Homo sapiens: one gene and its partner. The protein of the gene in region 2 purifies or fractionates together with the protein of the main gene of each other region. This does not show direct contact. Each region holds a gene or a part of one and is shown on either strand. Other genes may lie near its edges. The genes, in order: KLHL22 and NIPSNAP1.

What was found.
Region 1: the proteins of NIPSNAP1 (region 2) and KLHL22 purify together in Homo sapiens (co-immunoprecipitation; 2 studies listed by IntAct). This does not show direct contact.

What each region holds. Positions count from the first base shown.
Region 1 is NC_000022.11:20,440,902-20,444,033, forward strand, and holds the end of KLHL22 (kelch-like protein 22), read right to left. Parts: intron 2,303-3,132; exon of another isoform or gene 1,923-2,302; intron 1,538-1,922; coding exon 1,172-1,537; 3' UTR 618-1,171; downstream 1-617. UniProt on the Homo sapiens protein: Substrate-specific adapter of a BCR (BTB-CUL3-RBX1) E3 ubiquitin ligase complex required for chromosome alignment and localization of PLK1 at kinetochores.
Region 2 is NC_000022.11:29,577,892-29,586,095, forward strand, and holds the start of NIPSNAP1 (protein NipSnap homolog 1), read right to left. Parts: upstream 3,223-8,204; 5' UTR 3,192-3,222; coding exon 3,094-3,191; intron 1-3,093.

The DNA of each region.
Region 1 (3,132 bases), 9.1 Mb from region 2:
TCACAGCCCATCCATGCAGGGTGCAGGCTAAGCCTGGCAGTCTCAAGAGGGCAAGAAAAGCATGGGGACAGGTGAACAGGGGAGGGTCCCAGCTGCTGTGCCAGTGTGGTCCTTGAGACTGGGTGCCTAAGGGTTACCTGGCAAACCTGTAGCACATGCAGCTCCCCTCCCCAGCACACTCAGCTTCAGGAGGTTGGGAGGAGCCGGGCACAGGCCAGAGGGGCCCCCCCCACCGACCCCCTGATGCTGCCCCGCTCCCAGGTGCTGAAGCTCTGGTTCCCTGACCCTCAGGCTGAGAGACTCCTAACGAGCTGGGCTGAAACTCTGCGTGCTGCCCTGGTTGGGAGACAAGTTCCACACCAGAGAAGACACTCAAGTGGCTGCACAACCACCTGTCACCAGACCAGGGCGAGTTCCAGCTTTCCCACTGAGTGCCCTGTTAGCTTGTGGAGTTTACTGTGCTTCCCTCTCAGGCAGGGTCTTCCCAGTGCCACTTGGCTTCTGGCCTGGGCTTCCACAGCCTCTCCCAGATGGCAGCTCTGACCCCAGAAGCCACGCTTCCTGGGGACGCAGCTTGGGTGCACTGTGGAAAGGAACTGAGGCTGTGGCTACAGAAAAACAGTTAACACCTTCTGTAAGATGCTTTATTTCATTGACCAACAACATGGGGTCTGAAAACCCAGCGGGAGGGGTCTTTTTATCACAGAGCCAGTCCCAGGCGAGCTGATGCATCTCTGCTCCTCTGCCCCTCAGGAGCTCTCATCCTCCAACCCCAGCTGCCCCCACAGCCCCACCCCATTCACAGAAAGAGGGCTACCACGTGCCTCAGCCCCCCTGCCCAGGCTGCCAGCTCCCAGGTCCTTTTGGAGAAGGACTGATCTAGGCAGGGAGGAGAGAAGGCCAACCCCTCCAGGGCTCACTGAGGAAGGCCAAAGCCTTTCAGAAGCAGTTCCTGCAGTGACGTAATCCACAGCCTGGGATCTGCATGGCCCTGAGATGCCTGCGGCAGGCTGGCCAAGGGGCTGGTGTGAAGAAAGAGGGCAGGGCCCATAAGCTGTGGCCAACAGGGGCAGGGGCCCTGCCTGGAGTAAAGTGCTCTGGCCTAGGCTGCGTGGGTTTCACTGCCCTGCAGCCCCAGCCTCCCTTCCCTCTGATGCCAGGCACAGGGAGCCTAGTCCTCACTGGAGTTGTCAAACTCCTCCCAGTCAGACACACTCATCACCTCAGAGGCAAAGTCCGGGTCGGCCTGGCTGCGGTCAGGGGTCCCGCGGGGCGGCTCAAGGAGCAGGGAGCGGGGCAGGGTGAGCACACAGGCCGCCAGGCCTGAGATGGAGTTGTCCAGCTGGGGCCCTTCCTCCCAGCAGTCCTTCTCCACATCGTAAATGTGCACGTAGCCTGTGCGGCTGCCGCGGTTGTGTGAGCGGCCACCTAACACATAGATCCTGTTGTCCAGCACAGCAATGCCAGGCTCACCGTGCCCAGCAGGGAGTGGGCAGACAGATGACCACTGTCCAGACGTGCAGCTGTAGCAGGCCACCTGCAAAGCCAAGGCTAGAATAAAGCCCAGCACCCACTGGGACGAGGCTGCCAGCTCCCCCACAAGCCCACTGACCAAGGTGGCAACAGTTACCCACCATTCTGACAGGTCAGGCCCCCTGGAAGGATGGCACAGGGCCAGTGTTGAAACATCCTGTCCATGGGCCAGGCTGCTGCTTTCTCACCCAGGGATGGCCGAGTCTGCAGGAGGCTGTCTTTTGGGCCCTCCCCTAGAATGATCCTATTCTCTCTGGCTTTGCTCCAGCCCAGCCCTTCCTCTAGGCCACCCGGCCCTAAGCCAGTCTCTGCCCCCGAGTGTGTGGCTGTGCCCCCATCAGCATGTGGTCATTCCCCATGTCTGAGGGCACTGCTTCTCTCCCCTCCAGGAAACGAAGCTGCCTGAGAGACATGGACTCCACTGAAATGTCTTCAACCTCCTTCTGCAGCACTCAACACAGGCAGTAGGACAGGGGGAGGAGACAGAAAGTGGAAGTAATTCCTTGCGGAGTAGTCAACATCAATATTCTCTTGTCTTCAAAATTGTCCAAACAGTAAACAAAGACATGGAAAAATGTTCAACCTACTAGTAATTCAAGAAACGCAAAATCAAAACATCAGAGACAAATTTTTCAACTAGCAACCACTGCAGAGAAGGAAAATCACAAAACCCAATGCTGTTGAGGGTGTGGTAAAGCCATACTACTATGTATCTGTCTGACATGCCAGAAAAGGAATTTGGCAATAAGTATTAAGAGCCATAAAAATCTTACCTTCTTGACTGATTAGCCGTTTTTGGTTCTCTAGCTATGGTGGGCAGAATAGTGGCCCCCAAAGATGTCTAGTTCCTAATCTCCAGAATATGCTACCTTAAGCAGCCAAAGGGGCTTTGCAGATAGGATCAAGGGTACAAGAATACAAAAAAAAAAAGGATTAAGGGTGCAGACCCTGAGATGGGGCAGTTTTCCTGGATTTTCCAGGTGATCCATCCAATTGCATGAGCCCTTAAAAGTGGAAGGGGAGAGGCCGGGCGTGGTGGCTCACGCCTGTAATCCCAGCACTTTGGGAGGCCAAGGCGGGCTGATCACAAGGTCAAGAGATCAAGACCATCCTGGCCAACATGGTGAAACCTCGTCTCTACTAAAAATACAAAAATCAGCTGGGCATGGTGGCACATGCCTGTAACCCCAGCTACTCGGGAGGCTGAGGCAGGAGAATCACTTGAACCCAGGAGGCAAAGGGTGCAGTGAGCCAAGAGCACCACTGCACTCCAGCCTGGCGACAGAGCGAGACTCTGTCTCAAACAAACAAACAAAAAAAGTGGAAGGGGAGGCCGGGGGTGGTGGCTCACGCCTGTAATCCTAGCACTTTGGGAGGCTGAGGTGCGTGGATCACCTGAGGTCAGGAGTTTGAGACCAGCCTGGCCGACATGGCAAAACCCCGTCTCTACTAAAAATAGAAAAATTAGCTAGGTGTGGTGGCGAACACCTGTAGTCCTCCTAGCTACTCCGGAGGCTGAAGCAGGAGAATCGCTTAAACCCAGGAGGCAGAGGTTGCAGTGAGCTGAGACTGCACCAGTGCCCCCCAGCCTGGGTGACA
Region 2 (8,204 bases):
CTAATTTTTTTTTTTTTTTTTTTTTGAGACAGAGTCTTGCTCTATCACCCAGGCTGGAGTGCACTGGTGCGATCTCAGCTCACTGCAACCTCCACCTCCCTGGTTTAAGCGATTCTCCTGCCTCAGCCTCCAGAGTAGCTGGGATTACAGGCGCACACACCATGCCCAGCTAATTTTTGTATTTTTAATAAAGACGGGGTTTCACCATGTTGGCCAGGCTGGTCTTGAATACCTGACCTCATGATCCGCCTGCCTGGGCCTCCCAAAGTGCTAGGATTACAGGTGGGAGTCACCAGGCCTGGCCTGGCTAATTTTTGTGTTTTTAGTAGAGATGGGGTTTCACCATGTTGGCCAAGCTGGTCTTGAACTCCTGGCCTCAGGTGATCCACCCGCCTCAGCCTCCTAAAGTGCTGGGATTACAGGCATGACCCACTGTGCCTGGCCAAATTTTTGTATTTTTTATAGAGACAGGATCTCGCCATGTTGCCCAGGCTGGTCTCAAACTCCTGGGTTCAAGCAATCCTCCCACCTTGGCCTACCGAAGTGTTGGGATTACAGGCGTGAGCAATGGTGCCTGGCCCAGGTCCATCTGATTTCAAAGCCCACACTCCATCCCCACCCCAGCAGCCTCATTGCCCCCAAACCTCACAGGCCAGAAGGGCTGCTGCTGGCCCTACTAGTGACTCTGGAGAGATATGGGGCAGCCTGAGGGGCAGCAGGACAGAGTGTTCTCAGGTATCCAATGTGGAATTAAGGTATAAGTAACTGCAAGACAGTCCTTGAGGGACTTGATAAACATTAATTCAAGTGGCTTCATAGCAATCCTGCCGAAAACACCAACATCCCCACTTTACAGAAAAGGAAACTGAGGCTGACGGAGGTTCAGCAACTCATCCAGGGTCACTGAGTGAGGGGCAGCAGGCTGACTCTGAGACCCATGCTCCTTTTACAGCCTCTGGGTGTTTGCCACACAAATGGTTTTACCACCAATCCATTCTGTCCCTTCCCCAATCTTGATATTTTTATCTGGAAAACAAAGGGCTCATAAAAGATGATCTTCCCAGAGCCCTTTGAGCCTCAACATTATGTGGGTCACATGCAGAAATTGCTTGAAACATAGGCTAGGGGTTAAGGAGCAACACTTACTGCATGTTCGTCAAGTGCTAGACACTTCACAACCACGGAATCTTTTTTTTTTGTAGACGGAGTCTCGCTCTGTCACCCGGGTTGGAGTGCAGTAGCGTGATCTCGGCTCACTGCAACCTCTGTCTCCCGGGTTCAATTGATTCTCCTGCCTCAGCTTCCTAGTAGCTGGGATTACAGGGGTGAGCCATCACACCCAGCTAATTGTATTTTTAGTAGAGACACGTTTTCACCAACATGGTGAAATTTTTGTACTTTTTTTTTTTTTTTTTTTTTTTTGAGACAGAGTCTCACTCTTGTCGCCCAGGCTGGAGTGCAGTGGCAGGATCTCGGCTCACTGCAAGCTCCGCCTCCTGGGTTCACGCCATTCTCCTGCCTCAGCCTCCTGAGTAGCTGGGACTACAGGCGCCTGCCACCGCGCCCAGCTAATTTTTTGTATTTTTAGTAGAGATGGGGTTTCACCGTGTTAGCCAGGATGGTCTCGATCTCCTGACCTCGTGATCCACCGCCTCGGCCTCCCAAAGTGCTGGGATTACAGGCGTGAGCCACCGCGCCCGGCCATTTTTGTACTTTTTATAGAGACAGGATCTCGCCGTGTTGCCAAGCTGGTCTTGAACTGCTGACCTCAAGTGATCTGCCTGCCTCGGCCTCCCAAAGTGCTGGGATTACAGGCATGAGCCACCATACCCGACCAACCACAGCATCTTTAATCCTCAACAACCCTATGAGATACATCCTGATTACTCCCATTTTACAGATGAGGAACCCGAGGCTTAAAGAGTCCTGAGGTCACCCCACCTACAAAGTCTGAGTTAGATCTGTTAGTGCCAGGCAAACTCTAGGCTTTTCCCACGGTGTCAGCTTTATCCCTAATTATTGGGCAGTCTAGGTGGGGCGCTTATGCCACTCCTCTTTCCCAGCTGTCCAAAAGCCCCACTGCTCTGTGCTGTAACATCTCATGGCAGGCACTATCAGAACTTTGCAGCTTCATTCCTGGGCTGCAGGGCAGGAGGGATGGTTGCTTCCTTTTCACAGGTTGGGGGAGGGGGAACAGGTGGCCTCACTTCTTTGGTAAATATTCCTTGACCATACACAGTCCTGAGCCCTCTGAGGGTGGGAGGCTGGGGAAACAGAGAAAAATGAGATCATGGTCTAGTGAGAGAGACAGACAAGCACCAAGTCATAACTGTGCAGGGTCATATATGCAGAGATGGGGGAAGTACAGGGCTGTGGGGACCAAGGAGTGAGGGGCTGCCCAGGGCCAGTCAGGGAGGCCAAGCCCTAGCTCAGCCCAGAGCAGGGCCCAAACAAAAGCCCAGGCTGAGAGCACATGGCCCAGCCAGACTCCCACTCCCAGGAGGCCACCAGTTGGGTGCAAAGTGCATGGCGCATTGGCAGGCCTGGGTCCCAGACCTGGTGCTGCCACGGCACAGCAGGGAGGGTGACCTTGGACAACTCCCATTCCCTCTCAGGTCCGTTTCCCCACCTGTACAGTTCGAGGTGGAGGAACAAAGGGTCTGTGCAGCCATGGCCCCTGGGGATCCCCCACTGCTCCCCTGCCATCATCTCTTTCCCACAGAACTTCCCGACGGAGGAGCTGACTACCAGAAGCCCCCAGTGGGTGTTAAATCACAAGCTACGCCTGGGAATGGGCCACTCCTCCTGTCTTCTGCCCTCTCCCACTCTCCAGGGCCCAGTACCTGCCCTTCTCACCATCTTTCATCAGGTCCCCATCACAGCCCGGTCCCAACCAGGACAAAGACCCTACCCATCCCTTTCTCACCTCCCCCATTCTTTGCCCAGACCCCTCCCTAGGCCTTGATCCTGCCCCGCCTCTAACCCCCAGATTCCAAGCGAGGAGTCTCAGCCCCTCCCCCACGACCCAGTCCCTGGCCCCCGCGCCTGCACCCCACCCCGCGCGCGTCTATCCCTGCCTGGCCGGGCTCTCACCGCGCCGCAGCTGCAGACGCAACGTCCCCAGCGCGAGGCCCCGGGCCCCCCAGCAGCCGCCGCGCCGTCACAGAGATGCTGCACAGCCGCGGAGCCATGTTGGAGCCGCAAAGGTTGCAGGAAGGCCCCGCCCCCAAGCCCTGGTGGCGGAGGCGGGGCGCGAATAAACTCCACCCCTCCGGCTCGCCCGCCCCCTCACTCACCCGGTCAGGTGGGCGTTTCCTGTGGGCGTCTCCAACTCCGCAGGTGCTGGACGGAAGTCAGGGTTCTAATCCTCTGCGCGCTCTGCGACCTTGGCAAGCCCTTTGCCCACTCTGGGCCTCAGGATCCACCTCGGTAAAATGGGAGCGTGGAACAATAATACCAAGGGTTCTTTTTTTTTTTTTTTTTTTTTTTGAGACGGAGTCTCGCTCTGTCGCCCAGGCTGGAGCGCAGTGGCGCGATCTCGGCCCACTGCAAGCTCCGCCTCCTGGGTTCACGCCATTCTCCTGCCTCAGCCTCCCGAGTAGCTGGAACTACAGGCGTCTGCCACCACGCCCAGCTAATTTTTTGTATTTTTAGTAGAAACGGGGTTTCACCGTGTTAGCCAGGATGGTCTCGATCTCCTGACCTCGTGATCTGCCTGCCTCGTGCTCCCAAAGTGCTGGGATTACAGGCGTGAGCCACCATGCCCAGCCTACCAAGGGTTCTTAACAAGGCTGTCCGGGATGTGCAGCAGAGGGTCAGTGTAACCACCCCATGGGTTCATTTTGCCCGTTTCCCAGACAGCGGATTTATCAAGACAGAGGAATTGCAATAAGAGTTTAATTCATGCAGAGCCGGCTGAATGGGAGACCGGAGTTTTATTATTACTCAAATCAGTCTCCCTGAAAATTCGGAGACTGGGTTTTATTAAGGATAATTTGGTGGGTAGGGGCCAGAGAGTGGAGAGTGCTGATTGGTCAGGTCGGAGATGCAATCATAGGGAGTGGAAGCCGTCCTCTTGTGCTGAGTGGATCTCTGGGTGGGGGCCACAAAACCGGATGATCCGGTTTCTTAATCTGTGTATCGCCAGCGGATCCATTGAGTGCAGGATCGGAAAAATATCTTGAGCACCAATCTTAGGTTTTACAGTAGTGATGTTATCCCTAGGAGCAACTGGGGAGGTTTAGAATCTGTGGCCACTACCTGCATGACTCCTAAACCGTAATTTCTAATCTCGTGGCTAATTTGTTAGTCTTACAAAAGCAGTCTGGTCCCCAGGCAAGAAAGGGGTTTATTTTGGGAGAGGGCTGTTATCTTTGTTTCAAAGTTGAACTATAAATTTGCTGCCGGGCATGGTGGCTCATGCCTGTAATCCCAGCATTTTGGGAGGCAAAGGTGGATCAGAAGTTTAGGTCAAGAGTTCAAGACCAGCCTGGCCAACAGGGTGAAACCCCGTCTCTACTAAAAATACAAAAAAATTAGCCAGGCATGGTGGCGGGCACCTGTAATCCCAGTTACTCGGGAGGCTGAGGCAGGAGAATCTCTTGAACCCTGGAGGCAGAGGTTGCAGTGAGCCGAGATCGCGCCACTGCACTCCAGCCTGGGCAACAAGAGCGAAACTCCGTCTCAAAAAACAAACAAAAAGACTGTAAGTTTGGCCTATGCCCAGGAATGAATATGGACAGTTTGGGGGTTAGAAGCAAAATGGAGTCGGTTAGGTCAGATCACTTTCACTGTCATAATTTTCTCACTGTTAAAATTTCTGCAAAGGGGTTGCATCAGTAAGCCCCCTGAAATTGTATACAACGTTACGTGCTCCTCTGTGGTGCATTCTCTGGGGAAAGGCATTCACATGCCAGGTTTATCACCATCAAAGAAACAAACTTCCTTACAAGTGAAGACAGGGGCAAGGCTGTCAGCTGCAGACACTTTATCTCCACCATCTCCTTTCCCCTTTTCATCCCCCTTTGACTTCTCTGCCTGAAAATCCTGGGGCCTCTTTCTGCCCTGCCCAGCTCTTTTGCCCGCCCTCTAAACTAATCCCTTCTCAGCCCACAATCCCCCAGATCACAGACATTGGCAGGGGTGGAGAGCCTGCAGACCCCACAGGGGGCAGGGGCTCTATCCACTTCCAAAGGGGCAGGGACAGCTCCCCAAAAGAATGTCCACCCACTGACTAGTGGTTGCCTCCTGTTATGCTTGGCATGGGGGGAGTGGAGGCCAGGCCATGATTGCACCACTGCGCTCCAGCCTGGGCAACAGAGCAAGACCCAGTCTCTATAAAAAAATAATAATAATTTTAAGATTAGGACCACGTGTGGTGGCTCATGCCTGTAATCCCAGCACTTTGGGAGGCCAAGGCAGGAGGATCTATGAAAATTCAAAAAATTAGCTGAGCATGGTAGCACACACCTGTAGTCCCAGCTACTCAGGAGGCTGAGGCAGGAAAATCACTTGAGGTAGGAGGTCCAGGCTGTAGTGAGTTATGATTTTTTAATTAAATAAATAAATCAGGCTGGGTGCGGTGGCTCATGCCAGTAAATCCAGCACTTTGGGAAGCCAAGGTGGGTGGATCACCTGAGGTCAGGAGTTCGAGACCAGCCTGGCCAACATGGTGAAACCCCATCTCTACTAAAAATACAAAAATTAGGCCGGGCGCAGTGGCTCATGCCTGTAATCCCAGCAGTTTGGGAGGCCAAGGCAGGGGAATCACCTGAGGTCAGGGGTTCGAGACCAGCCTGATCAATATGATGAAACCCCATCTCTACTAAAAATATAAAAATTAGCCGGATGTGGTGGCATGTGCCTGCAATCCCAGCTACTCAGGAGGCTGAGGCAGGAGAATCACTTGAACCCAGGAGGCAGAGATTTTAGTGAGCCAAGATCGCGCCATTGCACTCCAGCCTGGGAAACAAGAGCGAAACTCCGTCTCAACAAAACAAACAAATAAATAAAATAAAAAATAAAAATACAAAAATTAGCCAGGCATGGCATGGTGACGCACACCTGTAACCCCAGCTACTCCGGAGACTGAGTCAGGAACATGGCTTAAACCCAGGAGGCAGAGGTTGCAGTGAGCCAAGATCGCGCCACTGCACTCCAGCCTGGGTGATAGAGATTCCATCTCGAAAAAAAAAAAAAAATCAAAGTCAGTATGATCTTAGCAGAGTCCCCAGTCAAAGCCACTCAGGAAAAACCCAGGTGGGTTGATGGAAGCACAGCAAATGGTGTCATGTGGTGGGAGCAGCTCTTTCCTTAGGAACCCAGCGTGGCAGACTGACTGTGGAGTGGTGGAAGTGACCACCTCCGCCAACCTGACTTTGGACCTGAGCTTCAAAGGATGAGTAGGAGTCTGCCAGGAGAGAGGGAAGGACCAGCGGAAACTCAGAGGAAGCAATGTGTACTCAGTATGTGAAGGGGCTGCCAGAGGCCAGGCGCGGTGGCTCACGCCTGTAATCCCAGCACTTTGGGAGGCCGAGGCAGGTGGATCAATTAAGGCCAAGAGTTTGAGACCAGTCTGGCCAACATGGCAAAACCCGATCTCTATTAAAAATACAAAAAGTTAGCCAGTCATGGTAGCCACACCTGTGGTCCCAGCTACTCTGGAGGCTGAAGTATGAGAATGGCTTGATCCCAGGAGGCAGAGGTTGCAGTGAGTGGAGATTGTGCCACTGCACTCCAGCCTGGGTGACAGCAATACTCTGTCTCAAAAAAAAAAAAAAAAAAAAAAAAATGAGGGGTGTGTGTTGAGGGCTCTTCCAGGAAGAAAGCACAGTTGAATATAATGAATGGGTGGAGATTATGTGATGGCAGCCTCTCATTCAGTACAGGAATAATTTTGTTTCTCTTTTTTTTTTTTTTTTTTTTGAGACAGGGTCTCACTCTGTCGCCCAGGCTGGAGTGCAATGGCGTGATCTCAGCTCACTGCAACCTCCACCTCCTAGGCTCAAGCGATTATCCTGCTTTAGCCTCCCGCATAGCTGGGATTACAGGCTTGCATTACCACATCCAGCTAATTTTTGTATTTTTAGTAGAGATGGGATTTCACCACATTGGCCAGGCCGGTCTTGAACTCCTGACCTCAAATGATCCACCCACCTCAGCCTCCCAAAGTGCTGGAATTACAAGTGTGAGCCACCGCACCTGGCTGGAATAATTTTCTAACAATGGAATGGGCTGCCTTGGTGGCATGTCATTGAATTGTGTCAACAGAGGCCGAGTAGCAGCACGTTGGCTATGTGGTAGAGGGCATTTGGCAGTCAGGCCACAGCAAGCTGGACCCAAGGACAGGGAGGAGCCGGCCTTGGTGGTTTAGGGTGAGAGGCTCTCACCAAAGCCTTGGCATTCCTGGCTGCCTCACACTGCCTCCCAGGTGAGGAGAATGAGGGAGGACTGACCTGCAGCCTCCTCCTGTGGGTCTTAGCATTTCTAAGAAGGGTTTTCCATCTCTGTCCAGCCAAATAGGGCAGGAGGGTGAAAAAAGGTGGTGCTGGGAGCATGCTTCCACCCCTGCCTGGGAGAGATGGGATATGGGCATCCCTCCCCAACCCACATGAACCACAGTGTGGCCGCTGACTAGAAGGGCAACCTCAAGGCCCCTACTCCCACCTCAGCTAGGGCAACCACATATCCCAGTTTATCCTGGACTTTCTCAGTTTTAGCACTGAAAGTCCTCCATCCCAGAAAACCCCTCAGTCCTGGACAAGCCAGAACCTTTGGTCACCCCAATTACGGCCCTAGTTCTCTCCCCAGGAGATATACCCACTCCATCCCAGAATCTTTTCCTTGCTTAACTAAATCTATTTACCCTCCTTTTTTTTTTTTTTTTTTTTTTTTTTGAGATGGAGTCTCGCTCTGTTGCCCAGGCTGGAGTGTAGTGGCGCAATCTCGGCTCACTGCAAGCTCTGCCTCCCAGGTTCAGGCCATTCTCCTACCTCAGCCTCCCGTCTAGCTGGGACTACAGGTGCCCACCACCACGCCCAGCTAATTTTTTTTTGTATTTTTAGTAGAGACGGGGTTTCACTGTGTTAGCCAGGATGGTCTCGATCTCCTGACCTCGTGATCCGCCCGCCTTGGCCTCCCAAAGTGCTGGGATTACAGGCGTGAGCCACCGTGCCTGGCCCTATTTACCCTCCTTGAAAGGGAGC